Linked DNA regions of Homo sapiens. The protein of the gene in region 3 interacts with the protein of the main gene of each other region in a pairwise test. Each region holds a gene or a part of one and is shown on either strand. Other genes may lie near its edges.

The links.
Region 1: the proteins of ITGB1BP2 (region 3) and PDCD2L interact in binary tests that used the Homo sapiens proteins (3 or more experiments, as listed by UniProt).
Region 2: the proteins of ITGB1BP2 (region 3) and RARG interact in a two-hybrid assay, tested with the Homo sapiens proteins (one study listed by BioGRID).

The regions. Positions count from the first base shown.
Region 1 is NC_000019.10:34,400,179-34,407,470, reverse strand, and holds the start of PDCD2L (programmed cell death protein 2-like), read right to left. Parts: upstream 3,073-7,292; 5' UTR 3,041-3,072; coding exon 2,933-3,040; intron 2,823-2,932; coding exon 2,656-2,822; intron 2,542-2,655; coding exon 2,481-2,541; intron 1-2,480. UniProt on the Homo sapiens protein: Over-expression suppresses AP1, CREB, NFAT, and NF-kB transcriptional activation, and delays cell cycle progression at S phase.
Region 2 is NC_000012.12:53,215,141-53,222,243, forward strand, and holds part of RARG (retinoic acid receptor gamma), read right to left. Parts: intron 5,223-7,103; exon of another isoform or gene 5,077-5,222; coding exon of another isoform or gene 4,810-5,076; intron 655-4,809; coding exon 506-654; intron 295-505; coding exon 153-294; intron 1-152.
Region 3 is NC_000023.11:71,297,598-71,304,852, reverse strand, and holds the start of ITGB1BP2 (integrin beta-1-binding protein 2), read right to left. Parts: upstream 3,104-7,255; 5' UTR 3,047-3,103; coding exon 2,983-3,046; intron 2,717-2,982; coding exon 2,667-2,716; intron 2,577-2,666; coding exon 2,520-2,576; intron 2,443-2,519; coding exon 2,297-2,442; intron 1,592-2,296; coding exon 1,497-1,591; intron 1,393-1,496; coding exon 1,337-1,392; intron 1,227-1,336; coding exon 1,156-1,226; intron 1,042-1,155; coding exon 942-1,041; intron 667-941; coding exon 553-666; intron 312-552; coding exon 249-311; intron 1-248. Other genes in the region: NONO (non-POU domain-containing octamer-binding protein), read right to left, coding at 4,777-4,911, 6,037-6,146, 6,345-6,384, 6,915-7,017. UniProt on the Homo sapiens protein: May play a role during maturation and/or organization of muscles cells.

The DNA.
Region 1 (7,292 bases), on a different chromosome or scaffold from region 3:
AGAGTAGAGTGGTGGTTAAAGAAATCTGGAGTGGCCAGGTGTGGTGGCTCACGCCTGTAATCCCAGCACCTCAGGAAGCCAAGGCGGGTGGATCACGAGGTAAAGAGATCGACACCATCCTGGCTACACGGTGAAACCCCATCTCTACTAAAAATACAAAAATTAGCTGGGCATGGTGGTGTGTGCCTGTAGTCCCAGGTACTCAGGAGGCTGAGGCAGGAGAATTGCTCGAACCTGGGAGGCGGAGGCTGCAGTGAGCCAAGATTGTGCTACTGCACTCCGGCCTGGCAACAAAGCGAAACTCCATCTCAAAGAAAAAAAAAAATCTGGAGTGAGCCGGGCATGGTGGCTCACGCCTGTAATCCCAGCACTTTGGGAGGCCGAGGCGGGTGGGTTGCCTGAGGTCAGGAGTTCAAGACCAGCCTGGCCAACATGGTGAAACCCTTTCTCTACTAAAAATATAAAAATTAGCTGGGCGTGGTGGCGAGTGCCTGTAATCCCAGCTACTAGGGAGGCTGAGGCAGGCAGGATAAGCGCTTGCATCCGGGAGGTGGAGGTTGCAGTGAGCTGAGATTGTGCCATTGCACTCCAGCATGGGCAACAAGAGCGAAACTCGGTCTCAAAAAAAAAAAAAAAAAAAAAAAGGAAGAAAGAAACCTGGAGCGGGAAGAATAAGGAGATGACGGTCAAAGAATACAAAACCTCAGTTATTCAGGAGGAATGTGGGTTTTTTTTAAGTTCTACTGCACAGCATGAATATAGTTAATAATAGAGTATTGTGGCTGGGCACAGGGGCTCAAGCCTGTAATCCCAGCACTTTGGGAGGCCGAGGTGGGTGGATGACAAGGTCACGAGATCAATACCATCCTGGCTAACATGGTGAAACCCTGTCTCTACTAAAAATTTAAAAAAATGAAAAAATTAGCTGGCCGTGGTGGCGGGCGCCTGTGGTCCCAGCTACTCTGGAGGCTGAGGCAGAATGGTGTGAACCCAGGAGGTGGAGCTTGCAGTGAGCAGAGACGGCGCCACTGCACTCCAGCCTGGGCAACAGAGCAAGACTCCGTCTCAAAAAAAAAAAAAAATAAGAGTATTGTGTATCTCCAAATTGCTAGAGGAAATTTCAAATGTTCTCACAAGATGTTAAGTATTTGAGGTGATGAATGCATTAACTAGCTTCATTTAATTATTCCACATGATATTCATGAATCATAGCCATCACTTTATACCTCATAAATTTATACATTATTATAAACTGTCAATTTACAGTTAAAAAAAAAAGTTGAAGAAATCCAGGAGGAAGTCTCCATCTCCCTTTTGTTTTTTTGGCAGGGGACAGGGTCTGGCTTTGTGGCCCAGGCCGGAGTGCAGTGGCACAAGTGTAGGTCACTGCAGCCTCAACCTCCTAGACTCAAGCAATCCTCCTACCTCAGCCTCCTGAGTAGCTGGCACTACAGTTGCGTGGCCATCATGCCTGGCTAATTTGTTTACTTTTTATAGAGACGATGTTTTGCTATGTTGCCCAGACTGCTCTCCCAACGTTTTTTTTTTCTTTTGTTTTGTTTTGTTTTGTTTTTACGGAGTCTGTCACCCACGCTGGAGTGCAGTGGCATGATCTCAGCTCACTGCAATCTCTGTCTCCCGGGTTCAAGCGATTCTCCTGCCTCAACCTCCCTTGTAGCTGGGATTACAGGTGTCTGCCACCATGCCCGGCTAATTTTTTGTTTTTGTTTTTAATAGAGACGGGGTTTCGCCATGTTGGCCAGGCTGGTCTCGAACTTCTGACCTCAGGAGATCCGCCCGCCTCGGCCTCCCAAAGTGCTGGGATTACAGGCGTAAGCCACCGCGCCCAGCCTGGTCTCCAACTTCTGAGCTCAAGCAATCCTCCCACTTCAGCCTCTCAAAAAACGGTGGGATCACAGGCGTGAGCCACCATGCTGGGCCTCCATCTCCTTTTAACAAAGGAGTTAGAAAATAAAAATAAAGTAAAATAGAAGAAAAAAAAAACTCTCACAAAACCTTAAGAAAGGCCGGGCGCGGTGGCTCATGCCTGTAATCCCAGCACTTTGGGAGGCCGAGGCGGGTGGATCACCTGAGGTCGGCAGTTCGAGACCAGCCTGACCACCATGGCGAAACCCCGTCTCTATTAAAAATACAAAATTAGCCGGGCGTGGTGGCATATGCCTGTAATCCCAGCTACTAGGGAGGCTGAGGCAGGAGAATCGCTTGAACCTGGGAGGCGGAGGTTGCGGTGAGCCGAGATCGCGCCATTGCACTCCAGCCTGGGCGACAGAGCGAAACTCCGTCTCAAAAAAAAAAAAAAAAAAAAACTTTACGAAAATAGCATTTTATGGTTCTTCAGAAAAGCAAAAAACACTCCAGTGTACTTCAAAGAACACGGCTTTAAAGTCTGCCCCAAACTATTCTCTGGAAAATATCCTCAAATGACAGAAAAACAATAACATGCCAATCACAACCTTTACCTGAGCGTCCTGCGCCTCTCTCTCTGGCACCTGCAGGCACTGGGAGCGGAACACCTTCCAGCTTCGGGGTGAAGACAAAGGGCCGTGAGGGCTGCACCCCGACTCCAGCCCGCCGGCCCGCCCCAGCCCGCTGGAAAGGACACCCCTGGAGCAGCTCTGGGACTTCCCCGCCTACCTGCGCGCACCGCCGGTGCTACAGCCGGGGCAGGCGCACGCGAACACGTGCAGCAGACGGTGAAACGGGGAGCCTTCCAGCGGGCAATACACCTGCACGACCAGAGCGAGCGGCTGCCCGCAGCGCTGACACACGGGCCTGGGCGCAGCCACGGTGGGCAGAGCATCCTGAGGGGACAGAGGAGGCGCTCAGACCCCGACTCCCCCCAGGACCTCGCCCACTCCCTCCGCACCCTTCAGCAGCACCCATCGACCCCAGCTCCGGCACCCGCCCTCACCGGAATGCCGCCCAGCTTGCTAGCAGTCCAGGCACCCGGCCCTGTGGGGCTGCCGTGCACCGGCGCATCTCGAAGGCCCAGCAGCACCGGCTTCAGAACGGCCGCCATGGCCGCCGGGCGACCAGGTGAAAACGCAAACTACGGCGGCCTCTCTGCGCACGCGCAACGCTACGCTAAAATGATAACCCCGCTCCCTTACTAGGATCCGATGCGGAGGCGTGGCTTTAAGGCGCGTGCGCTCAGGTCCCAGAGCCACAGAGGCGCCGCTGGCGTCAGGGGCTCGAAATCCCGGAGTCCCAGGCATTATGTGCCCCTTAATGCGCTGTGATAGGAAGTACACACCATCTACTAGGAAGTAGTTTTGCCAAAAAGCTAACTTTCTTTTTTCCTTTTTTTCCTGAGACGAGGACTTGCTATATTGCCCACACTGGTCTTGAACTCCTGGGGTTCAAGCGATCCTCCCGCCTCCGCCTCCCAAAGTGTTGCGATTACAGGTGTGAGCCACCAGAAAAAAGCCTTCCCGGAAAATAAAAATTTTAGGTGGGATAATGGTATTATCAGTCATTAACAAGAACAATAAAGTTTTTTAAAAAGTTAAAGTTTTTAATTTTTAGAGAAACACACCAAAATGCTTATAGATGAAATACCTCCGATTTGCTACTACATAATTAAGGTGGTGGGGTGTAAATACAGTAAGATTGACCATGAGTTGATAATTGTTGAAATTTGGTGCCAGGCACATGGAGATTTATTCTATTTGGGTTTTATATGTTTGAGATTTTTCAGTTTTTATTTTTGTTTTGTTTTGTTTTGTTTTTGAGACAGAGTCTTGCTGGGTCGCCCAGGCTGAAGTGCAGTGGCGCCATCTCACTGCATCTCAGCCTCCCAGGTTCAAGTGATTCTCCTGCCTCAGCCCCACCCAGTAGCTGGGGTTACAGACGCCCACCACCACGCCCGGCGCCCGGCTTTTTTTTTTTTTTTTTTTTTAGACGGAGTTTCGCTCTTGTCGCCCAGGCTGGAGTGCACTGGCGTGATCCCAGCTCACTGCAACCTCTGCCTCCCAGGTTCAAGCGATTCTTCTGCCTTAGCCTCCCGAGTAGCTGAGATTACAGGCATGTGCCACCATGCCTGGCTAATTTTGTATTTTTAATAGAGATGGGGTTTCTCCATGTTGGTCAGGCTGGTCTCGAACTCCCAACCTCAGGTGATCCGCCCACCTTGGCCTCCCAAAGTGCTGGGATTACAGGCGTGAGCCACCATGCCCGGCCTTTTTTGTATTTTTAGTAGAGACGGGGTTTCACCATGTTGGCCAGGCTGGTTTCGAGCTCCTGAAATCAAGTGATCTGCCCACCTCGGCCTCCCAAAGTGTTAGTATTACAGGTGTGAGCCACCGCGCCCAGCCACACAATACAGTTTTTTCAATTCCTGCAGCACAACATGGGTGAATTTCAAAAGCATCATGGGAAGAAGCCAGACACAAAAGGCGCCATTCTGGTAAACGCAGAACTTCGGAGGGAAAAAAATCAGTTCAATGGTAGTCAGGAGTTGGGATGAGGGAGTAGGACTGGACCACAAGTGTCAGGAACTTTTGAGGGTGAGGAAAATGCTGTATATCTCATCTGTAATGGTTCTAAGACTGTATATACACTTGTGAAAACTCATAACTGTATACCAAAGAAAGGTGAATCTTACTATATGTAAATCACACCCCAATAAACCTGACTTTTTAAAAATGCAGGCTGCAAAAACATTATTTTAGGATTCATAACGTGGTATGCAAAAGAAATGAATGTTTTCAAGGATTTACACCTCAAAGGAGGAAGCACCAGCCTTTGTGAGGTTTGGCTCTAGCCCAGCAAGGATCTGGAGATGAAACCCATTTACTCCTTTTTTTACCACACTTCATCCTGATAGCTTTAAAAGGCCCTGTGATGCTGGGCACAGTGGCTTGCGCCTGTAATCCCAACACTTTCGGAGGCCAAGGCAGGAGGATCTCTTAAGCCCAGGAGTTGAAGATAAGCCTGGGCAACACAGTAGTATTACCAGGGGAGGATCTTGACTACAAGTCGTCCAGGTTCTTGGAATATTGAACAAAGAGGTGGACAAAACACACAAAGCAACAAAAGAAGGAACAAAAGCACAGATTTATTGAAGCAAAAGTACATTCCAGAAAGCGGGATGAGGCTCAAGCAAGTGCCCTGTGTAGAAAATCTGGGGTTTAAGTACCCTTTAGAGGTTTCCTATTTGGTTACACCCTATGTAAATAAAGACTTGGCCTGCCACCAGTCAGAGGCTGAAGTGAATGCTCCTTTGTCTCCAGACCCTATTCTCTGGCCTCAGTGGGATCCTATCACTACAAAAATTTATTTTTTATTTTTCTTATTTTTTTTTTTTTACAACAGTACACTGATCTACAAAAATTTTAAAATGAGCCGGGCGCGGTGACTCACGCCTGTAATCCCAGCACTTTGGGAGGCCAAAGCAGGCGGATCATGAGGTCAGGAGATCAAGACCATCCTGGCTAACACGGTGAAACCCCGTCTCTACTAAAAATACAAAAAATTAGCCGGGTGTGGTGGCGGGCACCTGTAGTCCCAGCTACTCGGGAGGCTGAGGCAGGAGAATGGCGTGAAGCCGGGAGGTGGAGCTTGCAGTGAGCCGAGATCACACCACTGCACTCCAGCCTGGGCAACAAAGCAAGACTCTCAAAAAAGAAAAAAATTTTTTTTTAAATGAGCTGGGTGTACTGGCATGCATCTGCGGACCCAGCTACTTGGAAGGCTGAGGTGAGAAGATCACCTTAGCCTGGGAATTTGAGGCTTCAGTCAGCTATGATTGTATCACTGCAGTCCAGCCTGGGCAACAAAGACCCTGTCTCTAAGAAAAAAAAATTTTGAATAGGCTGGGTGTGGCGGCTCACGCCTGTAATCCCAGCACTGTGGGAGGCTGAGGTGGGAGATCTCTTGAGCCCTGGAATTCAAGACCAGTCTAGTCTGGGAAACACAGCAAGACCCGCCTTGCTGGGCGCGGTGGCTCACGCCTGTAATCCCAGCACTTTGGGAGGCTGAGGCGGGCGGATCACGAGGTCAGGAGATCGAGACCATCCTGACTAACACAGTGAGACACTGTCTCTGCTAAAAAAATATATAAAAAATTAGCCGGGCATGGTGGCAGGTGCCTGTACTCCCAGCTACACAGGAGTCTGAGGCAGGAGAATGGCGTGAACCTGGGAGGCGGAGCTTGCAATGAGCTGAGACCGTGCTACTGCACTCCAGCTTGGGCGACAGAGCGAGACTCCGTCTCAAAAAAAAAAAAGACCCGTCTCTCTACAAAAAATGAAAAAACTAGCAGGGCATAGTGGTACAACCTGTAGTCTCAACTACTTGGGAGGCTGAGGCAAGAGGATTACTGGCTGCAGTGAGCTGTGATCATGCCACTGCACTCCAGTCTGGGCAATGGAACAAGACCCTGTCTCAAAAAAAAAAAAAAGTTGTCAAAAAAAAAAAAAAAATGGGCCGGGCGTGGTGGCTCATACCTGTAATCCCAGCACTGTGGGAGGCTGAGGCGGGCAGATCACCTGAGGTCAGGAGTTCAAGACCAGCCTGCCCAACATGGTAAAACCCCTTCACTACTAAAAATACAAAAATTAGCTGGGTATGGTGGTGTGCGCCGTGTAATCCCAGCTACTCGGGAGGCTGAGGCAGGAGAATAGCTTGAACCCGGGAGGCGGAGGTTGCAGTGAGCCGAGATTGCACCACTGCACTCCAGTCTGGGTGACAGAGCGAGACTCAAAAAAAAAAAATTCCAGTTTTCAATATCTGCCTTTTAAAGCAAAAGAACTACCTGAGCGTCTTGCCAGGAGATGGCAGTCATCCTCGGTCTTGTCCAGGAATTCACCCGAAACAAACATAATCTCAATGCAGTTTTTAGAACCATCGAGTGAACAGAGTATCCAATTTCTGCAGTCACAGAGGTGAGGAGTGGAAAACAGTCTTGGGATTTGGTGACACAGGCCAAGTTGCCGTCCTGACTGATTGTGCCCCCACCCCACTATTGTCTTCTCAGGGCACCTTGCTCCACTCTAGACCCGCTCACCACTTAGTGTTAAGTGTCCGCAGAGGCACAGCCTGCGTCCTGCTGAGCGCTCCTGCCCTCTGCTACATAAAGCACCATCACAGGAAAAAAAAAATCAGAGGCTGAGCCTACAACCTCCTCCGTGGCATCTTTATTTTTCTACATGGGATGTGAACAACGTGAACATGGGTCAGAAAAGTCAGCTGCACAAAAACACTTCAGCCAATTCTAACACAGAGGGAGCATAGACATGGAGGGGCTGGGGGTTAGGCTGGGGGAGACCAGC
Region 2 (7,103 bases), on a different chromosome or scaffold from region 3:
GCTAATCAAATAAGACTGGCCTGGGAGAAGGCAGCACCCCAGGGCAGGCCAAGTCTCAGAGGTCAGGGAAGTGGGAGTGGCCAGAGGAAAGAGGGCCACAGCCATAGGGTAGGACCGAAGTGCTCCTGCCCAAGCCAAGGATGGCAGCCTACCTTCCTTGGACATGCCCACTTCGAAGCACTTCTGTAGCCGGCAGTACTGGCAGCGATTCCTGGTCACCTTGTTGATGATACAGTTTTTGTCGCGGTGACACGTGTACACCATGTTCTTCTGGATGCTTCGGCGAAAGAAGCCCTGGAGTTGAGGGAAAGAGAGAGGGCCTCTGAAGCACAATGCTGGGAGTACCAGCCTCTCACTGGCCTTGCAGGTTGCCCCAAGCCTGACCTAATCTATTAACCACCTATGTGCAAAGCAGTGCTGCTCAGACACAGCATCTGTGTGCCTGGTCTCTCATCTTACTAGGGTAACTGGATCCCCCGTCTGCCCACTCCCACCACGTACACACCTTGCAGCCTTCACAAGAGCTGACCCCATAGTGGTAGCCAGAGGACTTGTCATTGCACACGAAGCATGGCTTGTAGACCCGAGGAGGCGGAGGGGGCGAGGGCGAGCTGGGCACCATCTCCTCTGAGCTGGTGCTCTGTGTCTCCACCGCTGGGAGGGAAGCAGTGATGTGAGGGTCAGGGGAGAAGGACCCCACAGACCTCCAGGCTTCCTCATCACACACACCCCATGTGCATTTGTTCCTTGGCCCACTGGTGACAGCCATCACTACCACAGTGCACTAGTTCCAGCAGTAAGCACTGTCAGAATCCTCTTAATGACCACTATTACCACAGCTTGTTGTGACCCTAGTTCACCCTCTACCCTCCACAGTCTAACCAACTTGTTCACAAGAATGCCAGCCCTCATCCTATATGACATGTTTAATCCTCCAAATTCCAGACCAAGGCCATTCCGGAAATTGACTTCTCTGGGCCTGTTTCCCTAACTATCCAGGAGGTGGGTAGAAGAGTTAAAGCCCTGCAGCTCTGAGCTCTCTAGTCACTCTCTGTCTCTTTGGTATATCTTTGTCAGGTAGTCTACTTCCCACTGTCCTCCCTGTGGGGCAATAACTCTGGGGGCAGGTAGGCAATGACAGGCTTCCTGTAGCTGCTACTGGCCAAATGACCTGCTGGGATGCTTAGCAGGTAAACCAGGACCTCATTTCCTTTCCAGTAGTACAGGGGGGATAACTCCTCAGGCTTATCTCTCTCACACTACCCCTGAATAACCATCAGAGACAGTGGAGCAAATGGGGCAAAGGTCTCAGGGGAGTGAGTGAGAGGATGCACCACAGCCTTGGTTCACGCCTGAAGAAACTGAGGCCACGAGAGGGGAAGTGACCAGCTCAGTGCCACACCACCAGCAGATCCAAGTGGCTGTGAGTCAGAGAAGCTGGGGAAGCAGAGGCTGAGGTGTTTGCTCAGTTTCTCAGGTCTGGAAGCCGTTGGAGGTGTAGCAAACTGGAGAAGTCAGGTGACAGTAGGTAAACAGGACTGATGGGGGAGGGAACCTGTTTCTGGACCCTCTCTGAGCTTATGTCTTCACTCTGAAAATACCCAATTGCAGCTCAAAAGGGGTCTCAGCCCCACAGTATGGGGAGGACATGCTCTGCTCTGTTCAAAAGGCTGCTGGGTAAGTGTGTGTGTGTGTGTGTGTGCGCGCGCGCGCGCGCGCGCGTGTGGTTGGTCTTCAGAGGCTCGGAAAATTTGTAAATTATTCAACCTGTAGGACCTGTTGCCCAAACCTGGAGGGCCCAAGTTAATGCAAAAAAATTCCTAAGACCCTCCCTAAGGTGTGTCCCACGCACCCACCTCATGAACACCTTCTCCCTTCTAACCCTCTGCAGCCCACCTGGTCAGAAGCCCGCCCCAACGCAGCCAGAAGGGCGGAAGGAATGCCCAGGATGCCAGGGTTCCACGCTAGCTCCACCCACCCCACAGGAGGGAAGCCCTACCCACCCCCAACACACATACAATCAATTAGCATAAGAATCCTGCCAGAGTGAGATTACCCAAAGAAAAAGGAGAGAGGAGAGGGGGGAAAGAAGGGTGCCTGGAGTCTATTCAAGACTAGGGATGGGGGCTCCAGGAGGGGCTGGTGCTGAGAGATGTGAGGAGGGCTGGAACGCCTTTCCCAACCTCTCCTCACTCCTCAGACCCACCACTGTGTCCTCCAAGGGCACGTGTTCTGCCCAAGGCCTGTGCGTGGGGTGGTGCTCACTCTGGCACTGACGCCCTCCCTGCCCGCAGAGCGCTGCCTCATTTCCTCTCTTGCGCAAGGGCCTGGGTGCGGTCAGACTGGCATGGGGCAGTGCCAGCCAATTATAAGACTGGGGGCCTTAGGGAGACAGGCCCGGGGGCAACTTTTCCTGTCTAAGTGATACTGTCACATCCCCACCCCCTGAACCCTAAAGTGCAGCCTAGTGGCTCCGAGGTCAATCTGTGAGGTCAAGGCCCCAGAAAGCTAACTGGGTCTACTCCAATCAGATCCCCTCCCCAGACTCGGGCTTAGACCCCACCATTGGGATGCAGCTCCTGGGTTAGGCAGGGGCCCCTGCTGGGGAGGATGGGGGTGGGCTCTGGGGTTTTCTCCTTTTAAAGCCCAAATTGCTGAAATTGAGGAAATTCCTGACCAGGCTGCGCGGAGCTTCAAACAAACTCTTTATAACCGGCTGTAAACGCTCCCAGCTGCGAGGCTCAGAGCTGAGCAGCCTGGACTCACAATCTAGCACACACCTCCTTGGAGACACACACACTCACAGGTTAACAACACATAAGGCACCAAAGCAGGCATATTACAATGGGATCCTAGAACCCTCACTGGATTCTGGCACAGACACACAGCCAGAATAGAGACACACTCACTCCAGCTACACCGTGGAGGTAGATGTACCAGTCACAAGGCTGACACACAACAGCCAGCACTTGGCCACACAAGGGAACAGCCCTACCACCAGACAAACACCCCAGCCTGCCAACGCAGCACCAGGACACCAAAGCCTCCAAACAGGCACACACACACACACATCCAGCCCACCTCCACCCCCCAAGCACCCTTCCCTCTGAAAGTGTGTGCGGGCAGGCCTGAAGCTGGCTTTGTGTGTCCACCAGGATCCCAGAGGCCAAAATTATTGGTCCCAATTAAAACTCAAAAACCTAGGGCCAGTCAAGCCCAAAGGGCTTCTTCCATAGGCCTGAAAAAAGACAGGGTCTCTGCCCAGCCCCCAGAAGCCCTTCCTGAAAGATTCTTTCCATCTCAGCACCCCCACAACATATAACATACCCCAACTCCCCATCCTATTGGGCAATGAGAGGAAAGTTAAGAATTCACAGGGATTTGGTGCAAAGCAATAGTTCCATGCTTTCTCGGTTCTTTAAATGACACACTTTTAAATTCTTCCCCCACCCCACCCAAAAGTAAAGTCAAGTCCGGTCTCCTGGTTTGCCATCTCCCTCTTCCAGCTTCCCAGTTGTTAAATTTGAGCAGCTCTGCTCTGGAACCAAAAAAAAAAATCCGAACTTGTAAACAGCACTGCTTGGTGCCAAGGAGCGAGGCGCGTTGGCGGGGGCTTGGTGACCTGGCGTGCGCACTCCCCCAGCGCCCGCCGCCCCGCCCGCTGCCCGCCCCTTCCCACCCTTCCCAGCGTGCCCCCAAGCCCCTCATCCCCGGGCCGTCCGCACCCAGGCAGCGAGCACATCCCAGCCCAGGGTAAATTTGGGGGGTGTTCCAGGCTGCGCTCCTGGCCCCTCCCCACACCCCACCCCCGCCAGGCACTGCGGCCCAAGCTTCAAAGCCGCCTCTCATCTGGACTTCATTTTTACTGCCTCTCAGTCCCCAGCTTTTTATTACTGCTCTGGAAAGGGGTTCCAGGGCCCCAGGCCTGGCATCTCCCATTTCACGGAGGGGGAAGATAGATATTTGGGGACCCAGTAATGGTGCTCGCCCTGCCGCTGTCAACTTCAGGCCACCCCCCACCACACACACAGACTTTGCTTTAAACTTTTCGCTTCCTGCTGAAGTTGTTGTGTGTTGGAGCCATAGGAAAAAGTAATCTCTGCATATAACCGCATACACGTTTCCAAACATTTCTTTTTTTATATGGGGGTGGCGTACAAAACTCAGCCTTCTCCCTCTTGTGTGCACAACCTTTTCCACCCGGCATGAGAACACACAGGATGCACTCTCGAACACAGCACTTTCCAAAACCGCCCCCGCAGCCACGCAGGGGCACACGCCCTCCCGGCCTCACGCCACAAACATCCCCTCACAGGCCATGTGGACCTGGCAGCTGTCGCAGGCGACACTGGTGGAGAGACCCTTGCTCCCACACCCACACCACCTAGGCAAGGCGCTGCACACTCCAGGGATTCACACGCTCTGCAAACGATATTTTTAACACTGCCAGCTTCCCACATGGGCTTTACAAACGCCACCCACGGTCCTGAGTGTCATATCCTTCCAGGGCCACGGACGTGAAGGCGCAAACTACCCACACACCTCGGTCTCTCCCTATCCCCAGGAACTCTGGAGTGGCATCAACCACAGGTTCGAGCTAAACACCCACCATAAAAACCACACACACTCCAAACACTACTGCACACACGCAAAGGAGACGCTGAGGCCCCCACGTTTAAAGGGCCAGTACCTTACATAGAAAGGGCCAGAAGCTCCTCCTTGCACCTCAGTTCCACTCTTTACACACGGAAAGAGTAAATCCCACCCTCTCCTGCACCCTACACCCCAGCCCCGGACTCCGGTACCTACATTGCAGGCTGGCGGGTTGCGGCCAGGCAAAAGATTCAAGTCCGGCGAAACAGGAGCCGCCGGTGGCTCTGCGCAGCAAGCCGGCCCCGGGCCCGGCCGCCCCGTACAGCCGTCGCGGACCCGGGGCAAACGTTTCCATACAGTCGTACATCGCGACCCGGCTTGAAGGGAAACTGGGTGCTGGAAACACCAAGGACCCGCAGCCGATTCCCCCTCCTCCCCCGGCGGCGCCCCGCTCCAGCAGGGGGGGAGGGGGAGGGCTAGCATAGGGCGCTGGGCTGCATGCGGGTAAGGGGTGGGCGGGGAAGAGGGGGGATCCCCAGCAGGGGAAAGGGACTGGGCGGGGCGCGAAGCTGGGGCTGCCGCTTTAGCCTCCGTCCAGCTCTTATCTGGGTGCTTCGGCAGCTAGCACTGGGGAGACCTTTTTTAAAAGCGAAGCCTGGAGGGGTGGGGGGTGGGGCTTGGAGAGCGAAGGGGGCCGGGCACCGAGATGAGCAAAGCTGAGAGTGGAGCGCACACATACACATACGTACACTCGCTCCGCGGCGCGCGCGCTTGCTTAGACACACATCCGTGCATGCATTTATCTTATCAGGCACCAAGAATTTGCAAATATGCAAGAGTGAACATACATGTGAGCACGCATATAAAATCATAGGTGCACACACGTTTGTGCAAACACACCTTGCTCGGGAGAATGCTTGCAGGCATACTCTCCACAGCTCATAGGCTTTGCATGCATTTGCACTGAGGCGCGTGCCCAGGTCGGGGTTGGAAGAAGGAGAGGAGGAACCAAGCATAAGCATTTCCTTTCAGAGTTTTCCCTCTCCCCAAACTCTCCCTTTTTCACACTAGTCAATACAGGGGTGTTAAGGATGACTGGGGAGAGGGGAACGTGGAGGTCCCCGCGCGCAGCTGCTCTCCTGAGGCTCGGGACCTGCACTACCTCCACCCCTCTCATTCCCAGGCCTGGCTCCGCCCTCGCCCTCCGCGCGCCCGCTTCAGGGCCGAAAAGTGCATTCCTGCGGCTCGGCGCGCGCTGCCTCCTCCTTCCTTCCCGTCTCCCCACCCGCGGTCCTAGGGCCGGAGCGCGCTCCCGCCGTGAACTCTCTGGGAACCCCCCTCGGGGCGGGTGGCCGAGCGCGCTCACCTCCTCCTGACCCGGCCCCGCCCCACCCCGCCCAGGCCGTCTTCAGCGCTGCCGCGGAGTCCCCCCGCCCCCTCCAGCGCAGCCAGAGTCTACCCCTCCTAGCCCGAGCAGTCCGCCCTCCGCCGCGGCCCGGGCCGCCTCCCTCCGAGTCCCCGAAGCCTTATCCCGCAACTGACGCCCCCTAAGCGCCTCGACCGTCTCTCTCGATGCTCCTTCTTCGAACATAACTTCACTTTTAGAGCACAAAACTACCCCATAAGCTGTGCCTGCCGTGCCAACTGCGCCTCGATGAATCTGCCCCTGATGGCCAACTCCCCTCCTCCAGTTTCTCACTGCCAAGGGCTCCCTCGGCAATAGGGGCGCTTCTGGTCACTGACTGTTCTCAGGGTCTTTAAATACCCTCTAGCCTAGGCATAACTGCCCTCCCTTCGGTTAGTGCCCCTCAGCTCTCCAAGGCCGCAACACTGTTCCCTGGGTTGCCCCTTCCGGCACTGAGCGCCCTCGCCCGGCGGAGAAGGGGGTGAGGTGGGCGGGGGGCTGGCCACGTCAGAAGTTTGCCCTGGCCCGGCAGGGCCGAATGGGGGGACCCTGGCCCCGGACAGCGCCAGCAGCGGCGACTCCCGGAAATCCCCCCCTCCCCCGCGCCCCGCCCTCAGCCGCCGGGCCGCCCGGCCTGCCTGCCCAGCCGGCTCTGTCAGCGCCGCTCACACGGGCAGCGCCGCGGAGCGGGAGCGGCGCCCGGCCCGGCCCTTCCCCCGCCAGGCGGCTGTGGCTGGGCCAGGGCGGGGCGCGCTTTTCTAAGAATCTGTTGTACCGGGTGGGGGGCGCACTGGGGTGCTGCAGGAGTGGGGCGCCTGTTGGAAGAATAAAGGGCAGGAAGGGGTGCCAGAGTAGGCGAGGGATGGCGGGCGCGGGGGAGGGGCGGGGGGCTGCCGGGGCTGGGAAAAGGCCTGACTTGTGGATGGCGAGGAAACCTCGGGGTGGCAAGGCTGACTAGGGGGCTTGAAGCAGGGATGGAGAGGGAATGCACTGCTCTTTCCAACCCAGTGTAAACTCCCTTCTCCTCCCCCAACCCCAAATACCCATTTCTGAATCCAGTCACCCGAACCCCACAAAAAAAAGAAAGAAAGAGAGAGAAAGAAAA
Region 3 (7,255 bases):
AAAAGGTAAGGGAGGAATAAGACAATAAGGGAGAGAGAGGAAAGAAATGAGAGATGAAAAGGGAGAAGGAAGAGGGGAGGGAAAGAGGGAAATAGGAAGAGTAGGAGAGAGAGAGAAAATGAAAGCAAATGAAGAGAAAACCTCCATTTTCCTAGTACAACTCCTTCCCTCAAGACACCCTCTATTCCAGTCTAGCCGCTCTTTCACCCATCTGCCTCCCACTCTTGTGTCCCCTGGTCTTCACTTACCCCCCAGAGCTTCATCTGTGCTTGGAACACACGGTTACCATCAAAGACAATGTGGACATGAAGCTGAGAGAAAAGAATTACAGGGGTAGTAACAAACCCAGAAGGTCAGAATAGGTCATTACGACAGATAACCAGGTCAGAGGTATGATCCACAGGTTGGCCAGACAGCCCTGACCTAATAACTCTCCTTTCCTCTAAGGGTACTATGGAGCCTACAGGTTAACAGCAAATGGCAACTCTGCCTGTGAGATTGTAGTATCACCCAATTGACTATCCTCCCATCCAACATCAGATCATTGCTCACCTCAGTTTGACTGGCCTTCACCCAGTTAAACGCAGGAAGTGGAATCTGGCCATATACAGTCACCACTACTAAGGAATCTGTCTGGTGCCAATCATGGCGGCAAGATGCTGGGAGCTAAAGAGAAGATGTGAAATGCAGGTGGTAAGAATAAATTCTTAACTGAAGGGGAGTTCTCATGATGCACGTGGAGAAGAGACAGAGAGTCTCAAAAAGATTAACACAACCTCATATTGCAAAACCTCTGGGCTGTTGAGGGATAAGGAGCAGAATCTTATTTGGTCTATACTAAAGGGAGAAGACAGGGAGCTTGGCTATGTGGTACAGAGAGGGAGGAGAATTTACCTCTGAGATTGGGTTCTAATCAAGAGTTCAGGAAAGCTGGGGCTTACCTGCTTCCCCCAGTCATGTCTACCGACTCTGCACCCTGGTTGTGCCAAGAATGCCCCAAAATCCAGGGTCTGGATGCCACAACAGCTCCAAGACTTCATCCTGAAGTAGGAAGATAATTCAACTGAATTCTCTCACCCCCAATATTATCTTATGACCAAATATTAGGAGAAACCTGTCTCATAGCCTCATAGCCCACCCAGTCCCCTCCCTCACCCCTCATGGAATCGGGGTGCTCCTGGGTGGTAGGTACATGGAGTAGCATCACTCTCAGGGCCTTGGTAAACCTAAGAAGGATAAAGTAGAACCAGGTCATTCTAAGGTATATCCTACTCAGCCTATCTATACCCAGTCATCCCTCAGCCATATGCTTGAGCCCCTCAAAACTCTCACTCACAGCATCACATCCTGGGTTCTGGCAGCTGGAACCAGTCCGGATCAGACTGTCAAGTCCTGGGCAAGGGAAACAGAGTCAGGAACTTATCCATCCCCCCACTCAATTGCCACTTCCACTAAATTCCAGTCTATGAAGTTGATCCTACTAAAGACCCACCTACCTGCCCCAGGTTCCTGGTCTAATTCCTTCTGTTCCAATGCCATTTCCAGGGCTTGGGATATATTTAGCGGCAGCAGCTTCAGAGGCAACTCTGACCTAGGGGTTAAGGGTGGTGATTTAGTTCTGACCCATTAGCTATGATTGCTAGCTCCAACACTCCCACCGATGGTAATGGAATTAAAGAAGCCTGGTGAAAGTGAGGCAGAGTTGGAGAGGTTGGGTAGCAACCCCATTGCCAATTTTCATCTCTGTGGACATCCCAAATACCTGAACCCTAGAGAAATCCCCAGCACTTCTCTTACCCATCTACTCAGTTGCTCTAAACCTAACCACTTTTCTCTGCAGAACTGAGTCATATCCTCTTCCTCTTTATCTAATCGTGGACCTAATATGACTTCCTTCTGTTGCTCTTATTATTCCCACAAAATTTGGGAAGTCTCCTGGCTGCCAATAATACAATACATCCTTTTCTTGATATGAGATTTATCTTAAAGTTCTTTTCTAGAAAGAGAAGTCATTCTCAACAATCCCTTTTGTGTTATACACTAAGGATGTATTTGTGAGGGGCTATCTACTCTGTTGATTCAGGTATCTATCCCATCATCCCACACCACCTTAGAGGAAAGGGCGTTATTTCCAGACACAAATTTCCCCTAAGGCACAGGATATACACCATCCAAACCCTGACATCTGGCCCTCCTCACATCCCTGGTCCCTAGTTCCCAGTCCTCAATGACCCATTAATCACTCCTAGGAAGCTACATGAAAATAAGAAAAGTCCAGGGGCCTCCTCCTCTTTACTTGGGCCTCTCCCGGCGCAAGGTCTCTGCTGACTTTGGAATCACATTCAGAGGTTTTTGCTCCTGAAGTGAACTGCTTGTAGCAGGGCCTTCAGGTTGAGGGGCCTCAGGAAGCTTCTCAGCACAGTGTGGTCCCATAGTACAGCCCTAGTATAGATAAGGAGATAGGATTAGGGATAGAATCCTTCTATTGGGGGCAGAATCCAAGTACATAAATAATTTACCTTGATGTTTAAGAACTCAGAGAAATCTACAGTTCGCTTTCGGCAGCAGGACCAACCCTGATAACAAGAGACCCAGATCAGCTTAGCTTCCTGGGTATTATCTCTTCTGGGAAATGCTCTTGCTAACCCCCCTCACCTACTCCTCACCTTAAGTGCATCATGGAAGATTGGGACCCCAGGGTGATGGCAACAGGAATCTGTGGACATCAGTAGAAGTTATCAAGGAAGGGAAGATAACTATACCAAGTATCATTTTTCACCTCTTCCCCGGGTTTCTATTTATGGTTTCTTCCCATATAATGTGAAGAAAAAAAAAAAAGCCAGCAAAGGCTGTAAGATCACTCAGACCAATTAAACTAGGGCAGGTAGTTTCTTTCCCCGCTCCTCAAACACACTGCCCCCCAGCTGACCAGTCCCCAACACCCACACAGAGCCCCTGGCCAGGTCAGGATTCTTTACTCACCAGGAAGGTTGGTATTAGGGTCAAAGTGCTGCCCACAGCCTTTGTTACGACAGAGTAGAGACATGGAAGCGTTGGTTGAATGATTACTGAAAGGGTATTTCAAGGAGTCTGGCTGCCGAATGGGGAACACCTCTTAGTCTGGAGGCTTTTAGCTGCCTGGAAGGGCCAGCTGTTTCTATCTTTAGTTCAGGAGGCGTACACCTCCTAACATGGGCAAGGGAACTTCAATTCGTCTTTCCAGCCAATAGGAAAGAGCTCGGGGGCATTTTAGCTCTGAGGCTCAGGAAAAAAGGATCAGGCAGAGTAGGGCTTTGAACTTGGGTGAGGTCAGCTCACCACTACTGAGACAGTTTTAGATTCACCACAGCAATTCCAAGCCTTGGACACAGCAGCAGCTGCTAAGAAACAAATACCAATTTTGAGACCCCCCCCGCGCCCCCAGCTCGATGAGGATTAAGCCCATTTTCTTCCTCTTTCAGAGGGGCAGCTTTCCTCCATCATTACTTCCATGTAGTATCAATAGCGCTAATCCTTGCCAACCCCTCCAGCCATTTGATGCACCTCATCCCCACCTCCTCCCCATGTTTGTCTAGATCAATACTGTAATCCAAAGGTCATAAAGGATTACCTTTATAGAGTCTACTGCTCATCTCCTAAGATAACTCCCCTCCCTCCTTTCCCCTTCAAAAACACCACAGAAAATTAAAAGGCTTAAAATGTATTTTAATAGGTTGATGCTGCATTACTGCTCCATTTTTCAGAAAAACTCCAAATATATGAGACAAATCAAACACAGTACACCAATGAAAAAAAAAATGCACAGCATGACTACCTAAGATAGGCGAGTCTAAGAGCTACTGTCAGACCTTCAGTATACAGTAACCCTGTTCCCAAGATTGTACTAGGCCTATCAAGAAAAGCTGTGAACAGCAACATCATAGACACAAAAGGGTCATTCCTGGGTGTCCTCACCCAAGAAAAAGATGGAGGCAAGTTAACACAAGATTTTTTTTTAAAGATACACTAAAATGAAAATCTCTAAGAGAAAATGTCTTCTTTAGGACATGAAGGGGTAATATATGGGGTATAACAGAACCGTATGTACGCTGCCTGTGACCTTTGTGGACGTTTGCCTGAATTCTCACCTGGGAGTGAATGGAGCAATGGGGCTAAGGTCATTGGGGGATGTTTGGTTTTTGTGGTGTATGTGGCAGTTTCTCTGGGGCTGGGGGAGTGTAAGGATAAGAAGCAAGTGAGGTTGGGCACGGTGGCTCACCCCTGTAATCCCAGCATTTTGGGAGGCCGAGGTGGGTAGATCACGAGGTCAGGAGTTCAAGATCAACCTGGACAAGCTTGAACCCGGGAGGCAGAGATTGCAGTGAGCCGAGATCATGCCACTACACTCCAGCCTGGGCGACAGAGTAAGACTCCGTCTCGGGGGCGGGGCAAGCAAATGAAACAAGATGGACAAAAAAAAAAAAAACCGGAATGATCAAGATTAATGGGCTCTAACTGGATCCACTTTGCCATGGTTTCCCCAGGCCCTCAACAGTCACATTAGAGACTTCAGGAATGCACCACACAGAACTGATTAAACAATATACCACACAGAATTGACTTGTTTAATACCACCCCTCCCTTGCCCTCTGCCTCCAGCATACTCCCTAGAGTAGTACAGGCAGGGTAGATCTAACTATTGGAAGGAATCCCTAACACTTTTCCAGGGTAGAATTCTGGCTAGTCCAAAAAGGGTCCTTCTTTTAAGGGTTTTGAGAAACTAGACACTGCAACTTATTAGTATCGGCGACGTTTGTTTGGGGCAAATTCAGCTCCAGGAGCTGCACGGTTGAATGCAGGAGGAGTTCCACCAATTGCCCCAATTCCTTCCATTGTAGCAGCCTGACCAAAGCGTTCAGTTGTTGGTGGGGTCTTAAAGAGAAAAAGAGAGCAACACTGTAACAGAGCCATTGTTGGAAGCTTCCCACCCATCTGTAGTCCCTCCACTGGAGGCTATTTCCATTCAACTATTCAAGGCTCCTGATGGTAGGTAGGAGTGGGTGACTAAGTCTGTTTAGAACTCTAGTGGATAACCCCAAAAGTGGTGGCGCATGCCTGTAATCCCAGCTACTCAGGAGGCTGAGGCAGGAGAATCGCTTGAACCTGGGAGGCGGAGGTTGCAGGGAGCCAAGATTGCACCACTGCACTCCAGCCTGGGCGACAAGAGCAAAACTCTGTCTCAAAAAGAAAAAGAAAAAAAGAAAAACAAAAACAGAAACAACCAAACTATCCAGTTTTGGCATTTTAACACCATAACCAAAACAACCCCAGGATTGCATGAGCCATGAAGTATTTGGATTCACAACTATTTTATGTGATAATGCCTAGCCTTCATTGACTTCCCTCCAACAAACATAGTCAATCAGACTGGCCAGTCAGACGGTGGCATTTACTTAACTCCTAGATTAAGTATAGAGACTGAGTTTGCTCAAGATTCAAAAATAAAGACCTTGAGGTTACATTTAATGGATACCAGCAGTCCTAAAGATTGCTATCTGGGCCGGGCTTGGTGGCTCACGCCAGTAATCCCAGCACTTTGGGAAACCGAGGCGGGCAGATTATCTGAGGTCAGGAGTTCAAGAACAGCCTGACCAACGTGGTCAAACTCAGTCTCTAATAAAAATACAAAATTGGGAGGCCGAGGCTGGTGGATCACCTGAGGTCAGGAGTTCGAGACCAGCCTGGCCAACATGGTGTAACCCCATCTCTACTAAAAATACAAAAATTAGCCGGGCATGGTGGCAAGCACCTGTAGTCCCAGCTACTCGGGAGGCTGAGGCAGGAGACTCGCTTGAACCCGGGAGGTGGAGGTTGCAGTGAGCCAAGACCATGCCATTGCACTCTAGCCTGGGCAACAAGAGGGAAACTCTGTCTCCAAAAAAAAAAAGACTGCTATCTATAGCAAACTGAGGTAGGCCCCCAGGGGCTGTGAAAGCAATGCCTGTTCTCCTCCTACCACCATTTAGAATTACTGTTAAGGCACTGCAGTTTTATTACCAATCCCAAAGTTCCATCCGGCATCATAGTGGCAGGTCCTGGAGGAGCTGGGGTACCAGCTGGCACAGGAGCAGGGGGCATGGCACCTCTGTTGTTTATGCCCATAGCACCTAAGGCAGAGTAGTGTGATCAGCACAAGGGATAAAGATTGTTAGTCTCTTTCTATGCCAAAGGAAACAATTCAACAAGACCTCTGGGCTAAGTAAGACATATATGTCACCCCCTTAAAGTAGGCAGCAGAAGCTACATAGTTCACCCAAGACCAAACAAAAAAGGAAATCAGAGCCATTAACCTCCTAAGTCCTTACCTCCCATAGCCATCTGACCCATCCGAATCTCCTGCTCTCTCTGAAAAACAAAAAATACTCAAGACAGTCCAAGACAGCAGTGCATTCTACCACAATCCATCAAGGACCACACACTAAGGGAAGTAGATAGAGTGATAACACGTCCAAACAGCACTGAGAAAGCTGAGGAGCACAACCCTTGCTAGTTGTGCAACAAATTCAAGGTCACAGAGCTACTAGGACGTAAGCCAGAGCCTCCTATTAGCAACAGAGAGGTGAAAGGGGGAAGAGATTGCTTCTGAAGCTCCAACTTGTACAATTGCAAGGACAGCAGAGGACTAGCCAAGGTTGCATATCTCTTCCTATAGTCACTGAGTCTAAACAGAATACAGCAGACCCAGTTTTTCATCCTATATTGCTTGTGAGGCAAGATCTCCTCTTCAAACCTTACCTCTCCTTCTTATGAATTCTTTTTTCTAAAGGGTTATTTCACAACACGGGAAAATTGGTCATAACCGGTAACCTAGCAGACAATTCATGGTGAGTTTATCAGGACTGGTCTGGTACATCACGGGCACATGGGAGATATACCGCATCAGGGAAGGTTCCCTTGAATCCTTCCTGCTGTCGCCGCATCATTTCTTCTTGCTGCCGCCGCATCTCTTCTTCACGGCGCCTGCGCTCTTCCTCCTGCCTACAGAGAGTCACCAATGTATTTAAGACAGAGGCATTTCAGAACTTGAGCAGATTAACAGGAGACTCAACCAAGGAGACTGGCCTACTGAAAACTATCAGTTCACCAGGAAACTCACTGTTAAGTGTGCCCAGCCCTGAGGCAACCCCCAAAGAAACCTCATGAGACCAGCATTCAGCTGCTTTCTTTTTAGCAGGTAACTTCTAGGACCATGGGCAGCTAAAACATCTCCAATCCA